2 linked regions of the Homo sapiens genome follow. The protein of the gene in region 2 interacts with the protein of the main gene of each other region in a pairwise test. Each region holds a gene or a part of one and is shown on either strand. Other genes may lie near its edges. The genes, in order: FCRL4 and TFF2.

Region 1 (8,157 bases), on a different chromosome or scaffold from region 2:
TGGACTGCAGTGGCCTGATCTCAGCTCATTGCAACCTCCACCTCCTGGGTTCAAGTGATTCTCCTGCCCCAGCCTCCTGAGTAACTGGGATTACAGGCATGTGCCACCACAACCGGCTAATTTTTTGTATTTTCAGTAGAGATGAGGTTTCACCATGTTGTCCAGGCTGGTCTTGAGCTCCTGACGTCAAGTGATCCACCCACCTCAGCCTCCCGAAGTGCTGGGATTACAGGCATGAGCCACTGTGCCCAGCCTCTGCAGACACTTTTTAAAAAGAAAATTCTGTCTTTAAAGGTTTGGACAGAATACTCTATGTCATCAGTGGGAATGGGGCTGTGTTTCTGCTGAAGAGAATAGAAAACCCTACCAGCTATATTCCTGGGAAGCACCTGGATGCAGGGCCATTGGGACTTAGGCAATAGGTCTTCTACTGGAGGGAAGGAGAGTTGATTTCCTTTGATGTATGCAACTAGACTCTTCTTTGCTCTGAGGAAGCTGCCCCTGCTATGTGCAGGTGGCCCTATGGCCAGGAAGGGACATAACTTTTCATGGCCTTCGTGTGTTTGAGACTGAGTTGATGGGCTCTGAGGTTAACCACATCCCTAGCTGCAGTTAATTCAAGGCACTTTTTGTATTTCATTTCCCCATTCTAGAACCATTAGCAAAGTCTGCCAAGTTATAATCTTGTCTCAGGAAGGGTGTGTGGGAAATAGTCTGTGTCCAAGGCACCGAGGAGGGGAAGAACAGCAGAGTTAGGAGCTGCAAGAGACAGTGCACCTCAAGGGGGCCAAGGCCCTTGCTGGCTCCAGCAGCTCCTAGGGTGCTCTATAGGAATGGCCAAAACACCTGTGAGGCAGCTGCCTATAGAGGATGGGACTTTTTGCTGACCAGTAGGATAGATGGAGACTCAGAGTCATCATAATTTGAGCTATTAACAGAGAAGTGTGTCTCCATGGGATGCAGAAGTTGGGGATAAATTTGTTACACATGGTTAGTGGAAAAGCTGCTGGAGCCCCAGCCTCCCCCTCTGAAGTATTGGCTTATTTCTACCCTTTTCCTCTTGGGATGCTATGCATTCCATCAGGCTTGGCTAGAATCCCACATCAGGCGGGGTGACAGCTCCTCTTCCTGTGGACGCTGTGACACATATCCCAGGCCCTGCCATGTTTAGCCAGCACAATGGCAGTTTTGGTTTAAGAGAGTCACCCCCAAATAGCCTGGTTCTTAGGGTCAGAGTCACCACACGAGCTGATGTCTCTACATCCCTGCAGCACTCAGGAAAAGGATGAAATGGACAACAGGGACTCTTGTAAGTATTTGAGATAAAATATAGTTATTAGGGTATCTAGAGACATAAAGGAGCAAAGAAAATAAGGACTTACCAGATTGTCCACAGACTGGAGCTGAAAGAGAGTAAAGAGCCAGCCATCAGCGTAGGCGAAGAGTCCCGAACTATTCACCCTGAGAGCCCATACACTCATATGCTACTTCCAACCAAGAGGAAGAGAAACACGTTCCATTCCATCCATCCCAGGGAAGCGGGGAAACACAGTGGCCAGACGCTCAGGCTGTGGACTCAGACAGTCTGGTTTGAATTTTAGCTGTATGACCCAGGGCAAACCACATGAACTTTCAAGTCTCAGTTTTCTCATTTGAAAAATGAGGCTCATGAAAGCGACCTCATAGTAATACTGTAATGAGTTAGATCAGTAAGGTTTCAATTAATGGCTGCTGTCATTAATTTTTTAGTATGGGGCTGCTGCTGATTCCTCTTCTCTTGACTCAGAACACTTATTATCATAGCTAATTTGGAACTCAAAATGAGACAGACAGTAGAGGGTAGTAGTTAAAAGCCTAGTTTCCAAAGTTAGATTATGGGTTCGAATCCTGACTCTGCCACTGTACTAGCTGCATAAACCTCAGGGACAAGACCAACATCTTTGTGCCTTCATTTCCTCATTTGTAAATGGGAGTTATAAAAGTTCCACCTGATCAAATGTTAGAGAATTGGATACATTTATACATGGGGTGCCCTTAGAAAAGTGGGATGTAGCCAGGGCTTAGCACAAATTAACTGACATCCTCACACATTATCCTGTAACTATTTGTGTAATATTTTTCTCATATTGTCGAGTCAGATGTTCTTGCATGTGTACGTTGAGGTTCTATTGAGAATGTCACCTCTTGAGGGCAGAATCTGTGTCCTTCAGGTCTCTGCATCCTCTGTGGTGCCCAGCAGTGTGGCATGCCAAGTATACCCATCCACTCACTCCTTAGTTCCTATCATGTGCCAATCACACTAATAGGTCTTCCCTTAGTTGGGGTCTGGGGATCAGGTGGGAACTAGACAAATACGCTTAATAAATATTTAATGAACAAAAGACTGACTGTTCTTTAATTCCCTAGTTTGAGCAACTAGGAAATCCGTGCCTCATTTGGACAAACACTGACAAGTGGTACAAAAGCAGGAAGAAAAAAATCAAAGGGAAATCATCTTATCTCTTCTCTTCTCATGCTCTTTGCAAACATCAGAACAGGTTTGAACTTAGAATACAGAGAAGGAAATAACTATTCTCAGCAGGTGATCCTTTCTACCTGAGTTCACAATCAGGACTTTATCCTTCACAAATAACTCAGTCCATCTTTTCCTCTGGGTCCTCATGCTCTGTGACGTAGGGACTGAACCTAGCCATAGGTTTCTTTTTGCATAAACAAAATAAGTCCATTTGGGGGTAAAATGATTTTCCATAGGCAATTCATAGCAAAAATAGATGAGAAATACATCTTTGGAAATCAATTATTATCATTTTCCCCTTCTACCAGTAAATCATTATCTTTCCTTTTTGTTCATTTTCTGCTGTTCTAAAATGGGAGTAAAAATCCATGATTGCAGCAGCAGAAAAGAGGGCTTTTGCTCATGGTGAGGCTCAGCTTTGCAGCAAGCAAAGGTCTCCTCCCCATCACTTACCAAAGGCCAGCAAGGACGCCCACAGCAGCATGGAAGCCTGCTCCAGGATTGGAGAAGGAGTTCTGAGGAGACAAGCCAGGTCAGCCCAGATTGCCAAAGCAGCACTTGCCTACACCAGCACCAGCAGTGAGCTCAGTAAGCTTCTTCTCTGCATAAAGCTGATTGAGATAATGAAGTGAAAGGGGGAAGTAGAGGAATCTTTCTGAAAACACCAAACAGCAATGTGGACCAGTGTGAGAGAATCCAGACCACAAAAATCAAAATTTAATAGAATTAAGTACTGCTGTGACATCCTGGGGTGAATCACTTCTCAAGGCTAAAGCTACTCTAGTTTCAGAACTCTCTAGGCTCTGTCTTTCAAGGAAATCACAACCTATTCTCTCTGCTACTAGAGATGAGGTGAGATTGCAGGCCTATTGAAATCCACATAATCTAAGGATGTCCCTGAATATCCCCAGAGATGAAGAATTTCTCATTCAACACAGAAAAGGCCTCCTCTGACCGCTGATACCTCTACTGGAACACCTCCAGCAGGCCGTCTGTAGACCTGATGAAACATCTCAATCACAAGACAACTCTCACCTTGTCTGATATATATGAAAATATCCTGACTCATCAGTCCAGGGGGAAACCACAACTTTTGATCTGAGTAGAAGGCAAGCTGAGGAGTAAATTATAGCCCCATCATGCTCTTCCTAGATAATAGGCCATAACATTTTTACTTAATGTCCTAGAATCCAAAATTTGCTACAGGAATGTCTTGGCAAATATATATTGATTGAAATACATATGCCTGGTATCTGGTGGCAGAGAGAAGAAGTTGTGATTTCCTTGAAAGACAAGAGGCTAGAGAGTTCTGAAAATATGATGGCTTTAGCCTTGAGAAGCGATTCACGTCAGGAAGTCAGAGTGGGTATTTAAATAATTCTATTAAATTTTGATTTTTGCCATTTGGATTCTTTCACACTGGGCAACATGCTGTTTGGTGTTTTGAGAAACACCTAATGCTCTCCCTACCCATAACAAACCTGCACACTCTGCTCATGTATCCCAGAACTTAAAAAAAAAATTAAGAAAAAAATGGAAAAATCCGTAGTGACGTTTTTTGGTACGTATAATATTTTGGTATGTATAACTCTTTAAAACTTTTTTATGCTATTATCTTGTGTATATGTATGTGTATATATATATATATATATATATATATATATATATATATATATAAAATGTTAATGGCAAAAAAAAAGAAACACCATGGTGCTTCAGGTATGGTGCCAGGTGCTGGAAGTACAGTGTTAATCAAGACTTGGAAAGCTTTCATTCTGGTGGAGAAGACAGCAAGTCAACAGGAAATTACATAGAAGTGAATTGTATGTAATTTCTGAGAGTCCACTAAGAGGGAAATCTGACCCAGTTCTGGGGATGCATAAGAGGCTTCCCTGAGGAAGTAACATCCAAGCTGAAAGAATATCATTCTAGGACTGAGAGATGAGCATGCACTAAGATGGAAGGCAGTTATCGTGACCATCACCATCACATCAAGATATCTGTGAATAGATAATAGACATAGGATGGATTAAGAGTGGTCTGTATTTTTCTAATATAATGTTTTTCTATATATCTGTAATAATTTATTTTCTAACTAGGGTTTGTATTGAACATCAACTATATTTTAGACAATGTCCATGGCCTTAGAAGAATAAAAAGGTGAATAAAGTGCATCTCTCTTAAAGACTTTAAAAAAGTCAATGTGGTAAGGGCCAGAGTAGACATAGACACAAGGAACCATAAAGACATAGAGCTGTCAAGGCGGCACATGGGTCCTTTGTCTCCTTGCCGTGTGACCGTGCTGTCATCTTTCAGCTGCCTTCATTTGTCCCAGGAGGAGCAAGGGTATAAAATGGCAGTCAAGAACCTGATCTGCAGAATCCCACACATCTGGATGAAATCTTGACTTCACCTCTTGCTAGTTGGGTGACTCTGGTCAAGTACTTAGCCTCTTTCACACTGGTAAAAAGGAGATAAAAATAATGTCCAGCTGAAGTGGATGTTGTTATTGATGTTTGTATGAATACATTAATGACATAGAACTCTCAGCTTAGTCCCTATGCTGAGAACTATTCTGTAATACTAGAAGTAACAAGTATAATGAACTAAAAAGCACTTTATAATTGACATAATATCCTACCAACATTTTTGTATTCCTTATAACACTGGAAAATAGTATTTAGCATGAGTTTAGAACTCCAATATTTATTGACTGACTAAGGATTGAGGGAAGTTGAAATCATATTGCCTGTTTTCTTGTTTCTACCATAAGTTTTGCTGAATGAATAGATTTCAATTAGCAAAATAAAATTTCACATTTATGATGTTATACAAGATGTCCAAACACAAAAATCATATTTATTTACAACTACTGTGTAAATGTTTAAGTTTACGTCAGTCAAGTACTATTTTTGTTGTGGTATTTAAGTCACTGACAGAAATATTTTAGTTATTGGTGCCAGAAGTGTGGTTAGTACTTTGAAACATCAGCCAGGAAGTACATATACCATGATTTATTAAGCAATTGCTTGACTAACCAGGAACTTTTAGATTTTATATTAACAAAGGACAAAAATAATTGTTTTCAATGAGAATGTAAGAAACTGAAATTTTTAAACTTTTCTAATTTTTTTTTGAAAAACATTTAAACCTTTACAGTTTAAAAAATAAATTTTCATTTTGGGGTAATTCTAGATTTATATAAAATAGTAAGGATAATACAAAGAGTTCCCATATAGGAAGCCCTCACCTGTTTCAATTTCCCCTACCGTTATCATTTCACATCATGGGGGTGCATTTATCAAAACTAAGAAACCAAGATTGCTACATTACTATTAATTACAGGCTTTATCCAGCTTTTTTCAGTTTTTCCATTGATACCTTTTTCCTCTTCTAGTATCCCTTCTAAGATACTACATTACATTTAGTTATCTTTGCTCCGTCTCTACATTACTATTAATTACAGGCTTTATCCAGCTTTTTTCAGTTTTTCCATTGATACCTTTTTCCTCTTCTAGTATCCCTTCTAAGATACTACATTACATTTAGTTATCTTTGCTCCGTCTCTACATTACTATTAATTACAGGCTTTATCCAGCTTGTTTCAGTTTTCCATTGACACCTTTTTCCTCTTCTAGTATCCCCTCTAAGATACTACATTACATTTAGCTATCTTTGCTCACAGACGTCTCTTCTCCATCTGTGAGTTTCTCAGTGTTTCCTTGTTTTTCATGACCTTGACAGTTTTGAGGAGTACTGGCTAGGTAGTTTGCGGCGTCTTTCAATCTGGGTTTGTCTGACGTTTTGGTCATAATTAAACTGGGGTTATGAGTTTTCACAAAGAATACTACAGCGGTAGAGTGTCCTTCTCATCACATTGGGGGTATGGAATCTCAACATGACTTATCACTGGTAATGTAAATTGTGATCACTTGGTTAAGGTAGTGTTTGCCAGGTTTCTTCGATGTAAAATTACTGTTTGTCTTTTTCTATATTCTTTCGTTTGGGAGCAAGTCCAGCCCACAGTCAGGGTGAGAGGTGAGGTAGGGGGATTTGTCTCCTTGTTCTTATTTACTTATTCATGTATTCATCCATTCAATCATTTATTTATATCACTATAGATTTGTATATTTACTTTAAACTTTGGTAACAATATAATGCTTTATATATTTTGTTGCTCAAATTGATCCAGCTTTGGTGATTGGGAGCTCTTTCAGGTCAGCTTCTTCTTTGTGCCTTTGAGAAACTCTCATCATTTTCCTTGTTGGAACATTTCTGTACTGTCTGGCACTACGAGATGCTCCTGGCTCATCTTACATTTTCCTGCCCCAACTCTAGAATCAGCCACTTCTTCAAGGAGCCCCAATTCCTTTCAGTAGAGACTGATATTTAGAAACCAAGATCTGAGTGCTGAGTATGGTCTTTACTACTACGGGAGAATCATACATTTTTAACTATGTGACAGGGAGTCTGTGGTCTTGTCAGTGCTTTATGGGTGGGAAAAATACTGGAAAGATAAATTTGTTGTTCTTGCTATTAAAAGACTCTTCTCCCAAATCAGTGGCTGTATACGTAATGATTTCTATAGCCATTTGTTAGTAATGGAGGAACAGCCGCTTGGAGTAATCAACTTTGAACTTCAAAGAAAAGGCAGTGAAGAAGCTCAATTACATTTATTTGTAGGCTGGTGCCATCTAGAAGCCGCATTTTATTTTCCATGACTACAGATAATAATATTTCTAGCCTTCAGTGGTAAAATATAATCTCCTTTTGTTTTAGAGACGTTTCCGAGATGATTTCTTGTTCTAAGTCGAGACTCTTCTATCTTCATGAACATACAGATCTTTTTGCTCAAAAACTTGTCCAAAGTGAGAACAGAATCGCAGGTTGTTAGTGCCCTCTATTCCAGATTCACAGATCCACAGTTATGTAGTAGAGGGTGTGAAATGGACACCAGATTTGAACTCTAAGGCCTGGCTATGGTTTTGCTTCATCACTTACAAGCTATGTAGCTGAAGGCAAATCCATTTTGTTACTTGGAGACGTTAACAAGAAAACTTTCATTTCCCCAATATTTTTATTTCAAAAAATTTTAAACCTTTCAAAAAAATGGCAAGAATAGTACAATAAATACTTACCTGCTCTTCACTGAGAGTTATCAGTTATTAACATTTAGCTATATTTGGTCAGTTTTTCCTGAGGGTTGGCCAAGGCAGTGCTGCTTGAGGGATGTGTCAGAAGCTTGGATGTGCGGGCTGGCTCGTTCCAATGTATTGTACTATGGGATGGAGCTGCGAGCAGGAATAAAAGTAGGAAGCTGTAAGCTTGAAACAGGAGACCAGAGCCTGCTTTCCTTGTCATACCTTGTTCTAGTATAAAATTCCCATTATCTTAAAATGTTATATTTGAACCCAGACTTCTAGGTCATTATGAAGGTATATTTGTCAAAGTAGGAGAATAAAACACATCTTATTAGCTTATTAGATTAATTTATAACTTTTTTTTTTTTGAGACAGAGTCTAGCTCTGTCGCCCAGGCTGGAGCTCAGTGGCGCAACCTCCGCTCACTGTAAGCTCCGCCTCCCGGGTTCCCGCCATTCTCCTGCCTCAGCCTCCCGAGTAGTGGGGACTACAGGCGCCCGC
Region 2 (7,250 bases):
TTCTAAAATTTGTACCTGGTTAATTTTTAGTTTCCATTTATCTACTGAGATTCCTTTTTGTTCCTTTATTATATTATGTTTTTCTTTCAATCTTTGAACATTTTATGCCATGTCTAAGTCTGTTTTTGTTCACTGATTTTTCTAATGATTATGGGCCATATTTCCTAGTTCTCTCCACACATCTAGTAACTTCTGATTTTCTGTTAGACGTTAGGGATGTTATGTTGTGTATTTAGGTTTTGCTGTCTTCATTAGTAAAGTGTTGAATGCTTTGCTCTCTCAGGTAGTGTTATCGGTTGAATTATTTCCCCCAAATTCATATATGAAGCCTTAAATTCCATTACCTAAGAATGTGACTACATTTGGAGACAGTGTCTTAAAAGGGGTAATCAGGTTAAAATGAGGCTCTTAGGGTGGGCCCTGGTTCAATTTGACTGGTGTCCTTATAAGAAAAGAGTCGCCAGAGATGTGCGTGCACAGAGGAAAGACCATGTGAGATATGGGGAAAAAAAGCCATCTGCAAGCAGAAAGAGGCCTCAGTAGAAACCAGATGTGCTGACACCCTATCTTGGACTTCTGGGCACCAGAATTGTGAGAAAGTACACTTCTGTTGGTTAAGCTACACAATGTGTAGTATTTTGTTACAGCAACCTGAGTGAACTAATACAAGCAGTTAATTTACTTGCAGGTTAACTTGATTCCTGCAAGACTTGTTTTAAAGTTTTGTTCGAATGGATTTTGAGTAGCTTTCCTCTAGAAAGATCAGCCTTCTTTTTACGGCATGGCCTTTATTGAATGCTTGAAGTGGTCAACACCTCTGGCTGCTCTGAGCTCAAATGCTTTCCAGCCCCACGAACCCTACACTAGTTGTTCAGTTTAGCCTCCCCAGTGATTGTTCTGTCCCCAGGGGCTACTTAGCCTGGCCTTGTGGGCACGAACAGCATAGTATTTGATGAAAAGCTCAAAGGACACACTTTTATATTTCTGGAGCTTCCTTCTCTTACCTTGATAACCCGCCTGCCTCAGAAGCTTCCAATTCTGACCTCTGTCTCCTCAGCCCGATGGGACTTCAGTGCTATTTGGGTTCCCCTCCCTGTGCTGTAGTCTGGAGAGCGTCTCCAGGAAACCAAGGCAGCCATGGGACTCCCCCTATTGTTTCCCTTCTCTCAGGGATCGCTGTCTGGCACTGCCTGCTGCTCAGCATCTGCAGACTGTTACTTATGTAGTTTTAGAGTTACTCATGGTGGGAGGCTAGCCTGGTACCAGTGACTCCATAGTCAAAAGCGGAAGTCCACATGGGTGATAGCTGAGGTGGTTCCCATTTGTTGACTTTCTATGTGAACTGATGGAAAGTATCATCCCCAAAGTGTGCAAAATGGAAGTGAGCAGGGGTGGAGAAGGATAAACAGAAAGAGGAGGGCGCCAGCCCTGAGTGCCTGGATGGCGCTGAGATCATGCGTTGAGAGTGGCAACAATTCAAGGTAGGTGTCGGCCATGCTAGGCAGATGGCATAGGCACAGAGACAGTGGGAAACAGCAGTGAGGAAGACGGTGGGTGAAGTGAGCACTGTGGAAATCAGGCTGGAGAAGCAGGAAGGAAGGATAGACAGGAGGGGGCTCACAGGGGAATAGGGGATTGGAGGGCTTTAGGATTCAGACAAAGGGAGAATGTTAGGAGCTTAGGACATCCTGGGCAGAAAGGACATTTGCATACCCTCTTTCAGAGGTGGAGCTCAAGTTCTGAGTGTGGTCATGGGAGGGTGGCAGAAGTGGCAGAAGTGGAGTGGAGATGGAAGTTCCTAGAGATGAGGAAAAATAAAATCTGAGCGACTGTGAATTTTGATGAAACATCGACCGCCATGTTGAAGATGGCTGGGATGTGGCCAAGTCTTAGCATGACAAGGAACACAGTGAACTCAGTGCTGAAATTCTTAACGAAAGGGACAGGCTGCACAAAGGTCGGCAGATGACAGCAGGGCAGGGACTCCGGACATGGCGCCCTTCCCAGCCTGCATCTCCAAGGAGGATGGTTTTTGCATGAGGGTGAAGACTTGGGGCTCAAAGTCAATGTCCAGCCCCCAGTCTGAGCCCATGTGATGGGGACGTGGCCACCAAGTACAGTTGTGGAGGTTGTGAACAGCTCCACTTTCAACTAGCGATGCCACTCTATTGCAGACGTCCCATCTCGTGTAATGGTTTCCCAACTCTGTGGGCACTCAGTGTCCCTGCGTGGGGGCCTGAGCAGGATTCCAGGGAAGCATGCCTATGACAACACAGGCTTCCGCCAGGGCCAGGAGAGTGAGAGAGGCTGAGAAGTGGTCTCTTTTGCATGGGTCAGGTGGTCGCAGCAGGAATCCTGAAGGGGCTGCAGTGAGCGGTGGGAAGTCGAGTTGATGGGGAGGAAGCAGAGAGGAGAGGTGGGTGGGAATATGAGAGAAAACAATGACTCAGTCACTTATATCATGATGGTGACTAAAGTGACAGGGATGTAGAACAAGGAAACTGACCTTGCCAGAGTTTTCATGGATCGAGTCCCTGTGGTTGCCCAGTGGTGAACAGTCAGCAGAGAGCCTGGAGGTACTTGACCCGGACCCAGAGGAGCCCTGGAGGATGGAGCCTGGAGGACGGGGGCCTGGAGAATGAGGGTCTGGAGGACGAGGGTCTGGAGGAACAGGGGCCTGGAGGACGAGGGTCTGGAGGAAGAGGGCCTGGAGGACAGGGGCCTGAAAGATGGGGGCCTGGAGGATGAGGGTCTGGAGGATGAGGGTCTGGAGGAGCAGGGGCCTGGAGGATGAGGGCCTGGAGGACAAGAGCCTGGAGGACAGGGGCCTGAAAGATGGGGGCCTGGAGGATGGGGCCTGGAGGATGGGGGCCTGGAGGACGGGGGCCTGGAGGATGATGGCCTGAAGGATGAAACCTGGAGGATGGAGCCTGGAGGATGGAGCCTGGAGGATGAGGGCCTAGAGGATGGGGGCCTGGAGGACAGGGGCCTAGAGGATGGAGCCCTGGAGAATGGGGGCCTGGAGGATGGAGCCTGGGGGACGAGGGCCTGGAGGATGGGGGCCTGGAGTATGGGGCCTGCTCTCCAGACCCTGAGGACAGCCCCGTGGTGGACCAAGGATTTTGGGTTTCCTGCGTCTCTGGGCCCCTGACTGCTCAACCATCAGAAACAGACTGGCAACCCCCTGTCATTTCCCTGGCGTGGGGAACTTCGGGTCCCCTCTGTCCTTCCCACCACACTTTTCCCTCTTTCTTTCCGGGTGTCTACTCTCTGGCTTCTGTCTTCTCTGTCAGGTCCACAGAATCCTTCTCCAGCACATCCTACCCCAGGAAGGCCATGGGCTGGGTCCCAGGTGCCATCTTTCAGAAGATGTAGAGCATTCCCATGGAACAAAAATAACCCATTTCAGGGGTTGGCTGAAAATGAACTTATTAAAACCTGCCTGTCACAGGCTACTCCGCTGACCCTGTCAGCCTCATCTCCATGGAGAGCAGCCCCTCCTGCTGAAGATGGGACAAAGGGCATCGTGCTGCGGTTGGGGAGGCTCTAACCACAGCCCTGGGAGCAGTCTCTTACCTCCTCTGAGATGCTTCCCTTCCTCAGGGAGGGGACTTTTCCATGCTATCTGCTGGCCTGTACATTTTCCCCAGTAAACTTGGCCCTAATATTTTCTAAATTCCTGTGGTCCCTGCCCACTCTATCAATAGAAATGCATAGCTTATCCCTTCCTGGGTGTGACCCTGTGTGTGCCCAGCCCCAGACCTGCACGTGGCCGGTTTTCCACGCTGGCAGCCTGGCATGACCCAACTCTCTGTCCAGGGCAGGAAGAGGTATCACCGAGCAGGGAGAGAGTCACCCTGGCCCGGAAGCCTCGCCTGCACAGGGCACAGCTGCCTCTTGCCTCCTCTTCGCCTCCACGGTGGAAGGGCTGGGGCCACGGGGCAGAGAAGAAAGGTTATCTCTGCTTGTTGGACAAACAGAGGGGAGATTATAAAACATACCCGGCAGTGGACACCATGCATTCTGCAAGCCACCCTGGGGTGCAGCTGAGCTAGACATGGGACGGCGAGACGCCCAGCTCCTGGCAGCGCTCCTCGTCCTGGGGCTATGTGCCCTGGCGGGGAGTGAGAAACCCTGTAAGTGAAGGAGAGGGTCTTTTTATGTGCTTTCTTTATTTCTCTTAAAGAAAAAAAAAAAGCACAACCATAAATTAACTTGAGAGGGGGAATGGCTATAAAGGCATCTGGCAATGTGTGTTGTTCACATGGGATTTGCCACTGCTCAGGAGGGTGGCTCCAAGAAGGGCCTCCCTCCTAGGGAAAGGCTGAGTGACGGCAGGTGTCAGCGGGCCCCGTGTCGGGCCAGGAGGGCATTCCCACCAAGGGTCCTTGGAGTCCCAGAGCACTCACCTCTCGCCTGGATCTTGGCCTTGGGTCCATCTGTTCACCCTCCTCTAGGAGGGTTTTGTTTTTGTTTTTTTCCGAGACAGGATCTGGCTTTGCCGCCCAGGCAGGAGTGCAGTGGTGTGATCTTGGCTCACTGCAACCTCTGCCTCCCAGGCTCAAGTGATCCTCCCACCTCAGCCGCCTGAGTAGCTGAAACCACAGTTGTGGACCATCATGCCCGGCCAATTTTTTTTTTTGTATTGTTTGTAGAGATGGGGTTTCGACATGTTGCCCAGGATGGTCTTGAACTCCTGAGCTCAAGCAATCTGCCCGCCTCGGCTTCCTAAAGTGCTGGGATTATAGGTATGAGCCACCATGCCTGGCTTTTTTTTTTTTTTCCTTTTAAACTAATATAACAATTTCAGCAAAGCCCTATCGGCTTCTCAGGAGGAAACCGCATTGCTTAAATATGGGCAAGATAAGACTTTGTGTTTCTCTATGTGGCAACAAGACAGTAGAGGCATCCCCTAGAACCTCTGAGAGAAGGAGCAGTGTGGTCTGGGGTACCAGGGTGGGGCCGACTGAGGGTCTTTCCACAGCCCCCTGCCAGTGCTCCAGGCTGAGCCCCCATAACAGGACGAACTGCGGCTTCCCTGGAATCACCAGTGACCAGTGTTTTGACAATGGATGCTGTTTCGACTCCAGTGTCACTGGGGTCCCCTGGTGTTTCCACCCCCTCCCAAAGCAAGGTAATCTTCCAGGGAATCTTCCTGGGCCAGCAGCTGGCAACCCAGGACCCAGCTTCACAGGCGGAGCCCAGAGCAGGGGCCGGAGGAGGCCCAGTTGCTAGTCTAGGGTTAGCCTGGGTGGGTTAGTCTCGAGCTAGCCCCGGTTGGTTAGTCTGGGGCTAGCCCAGGTTGGTTAGTCTAGAGCTAGCCCAGGTTGGTTAGTCTGGGGCTAGCCCAGGTTGGTTAGTCTGGGGCTAGCCCAGGTTGGTTAGTCTAGGGCTAGTGTAGGCTAGTTAGTCTAAGGCTAGCCCAGGTTGGTTAGTTTGGAGCTAGCGCAGGTTGGTTAGTCTGGGGCTAGTAGCCCAGGTTGGTTAGCCTGGAGCTAGCCCAGGTTGGTTAGTCTAGGGCTAGCGTAGGCTGGTTAGTCTGGGGCTAGCCCAGGTTGGTTAGTCTGGAGCTAGCCCAGGTTGGTTAGTCTGGGGCTAGTAGCCCAGGTTGGTTAGTCTGGGGCTAGCCCAGGTTGGTTAGTCTAGGGCTAGTGTAGGCTAGTTAGTCTAGGGCTAGCCCAGGTTAGTTAGTTTGGAGCTAGCACAGGTTGATTAGTCTGGGGCTAGTAGCCTAGGTTGGTTAGTCTGGAGCTAGCCCAAGTTGGTTAGTCTAGGGCTAGCATAGGCTGGTTAGTCTGGGGCTAGTAGCCTAGGTTTGTTAGTCTGGAGCTAGCCCAGGTTGGTTAGTCTAGGGCTAGCGTAGGCTGGTTAGTCTAGGGCTAGCCCAGGTTGGTTAATCGGAGCTAGCCCAGGTTGGTTAGTCTGGAGCTAGCCCAGGTTGGTTAGTCTGAGGCTAGTAGCCCAGGTTGGTTAGTCTGGGGCTAGCCCAGGTTTGTTAGTCTGGAGCTAGCCCAGGTTGTTTAGTCTGGAGCTAGCCCAGGTTGGTTAGTCTGGGACTAGCCTGGACTGCTAGTCTAGAGGTAGCCTAGAGGACTGCTAGTCTAGAGGTAGTCTAGGGCTAGCCCAGGTTGGTTAGTCTGGGGCTAGCCCATGTTGGTTAGTCTTAGACTAGCCTGGACTGCTAGTCTAGAGGTAGCCCAGGTTGTTTAGTCTGGTACTAGCCTGGACTGTTAGTCTAGAGGTAGCCCAGGTTGGTTAGGTTGGTTAGTCTGGGACTAGTCTGGACTGTTAGTCTAGAGGTAGCCCAGGTTGGTTAGTCTGGGACTAGCCTGGACTGTTAGTCTAGAGGTAGCCCAGATTGGTTAGTCTGGGACTAGTCTGGACTGCTAGTCTAGAGGTAGCCCAGGTTGGTTAGCCTGGGGCCAGCCTGGACTGTTAGTCTAGAGGTAACCCAGGTCAGCCAACAGTGAGATGAAAATTTCCCACCTACCCTGTTTCTACACTGTTAGTTCTTTCAACAGACATGTGTGTGTGGAGCCATCAGTTTTACTTTAGTTGAGAAAAAAATATATATATATATAGTAGGTCTCCTCTAGTTTTTGAAGTGTGACTTCTGAAGAAGCTTCCATGGGGAAATGAAGGTATTTAATAGGACAGCAGTAACATAAGGGCTGACAGCCCTCAAATGTTAGGGAAGGAAGTGAAGCCTTCTAGGGTTCTTTGGGAGTGAGTTTTATGTTAGTGCACGGGATCAGGACCCAAGTTGTAACGCCGACGAGTGCTCAAAGGAAGGTTGTGTGTGTGTCGTGCACCTGTGTGCGTGGAACCAGGCACGTCCTCTGGAGAAGGAGGATTCATCCCCAAGATTGTTGCTGGGAGGCTTGCTGGGCCCCGCAGGGAAACCAGGCAGATGGTGGATTGTTCACGAGCGCCCACTGAATGGCAGTGTCTTTGGGAATCAATACCATGTCCAAACGCTTTCCATCTTACCAAGGTGCCCACAAACCTTTTCTCATCTTGGCCCGGGGGACCACCCCATTTACTGAGAACACTGAGTCCCGAGAGGCAAAATGATTTCCCCAAGGCGGGGGACTCCAGAGCTTCTGACTGTGACCACCCCACATGGGCCCCACCTTCGCGGAGGACAGGCCAGCCAAGCGTCGCTGGGGCCGACACTTCCACAGTCCCCGGGGGAGGCGGTCCCAGGGGCCGACACTTCCACAGTCCCCGGGGGAGGCCGTCCCGGGGGA

The links.
Region 1: the proteins of TFF2 (region 2) and FCRL4 interact in binary tests that used the Homo sapiens proteins (3 or more experiments, as listed by UniProt).

Annotation. Positions count from the first base shown.
Region 1 is NC_000001.11:157,594,946-157,603,102, forward strand, and holds the start of FCRL4 (Fc receptor-like protein 4 precursor), read right to left. Parts: upstream 3,141-8,157; 5' UTR 3,000-3,140; coding exon 2,969-2,999; intron 1,404-2,968; coding exon 1,383-1,403; intron 1-1,382. UniProt on the Homo sapiens protein: May function as an inhibitor of the B-cell receptor signaling. May function in the B-cell-mediated immune response.
Region 2 is NC_000021.9:42,347,765-42,355,014, reverse strand, and holds the start of TFF2 (trefoil factor 2 precursor), read left to right. Parts: upstream 1-4,020; 5' UTR 4,021-4,057; coding exon 4,058-4,136; intron 4,137-4,984; coding exon 4,985-5,134; intron 5,135-7,250. UniProt on the Homo sapiens protein: Inhibits gastrointestinal motility and gastric acid secretion. Could function as a structural component of gastric mucus, possibly by stabilizing glycoproteins in the mucus gel through interactions with carbohydrate side chains.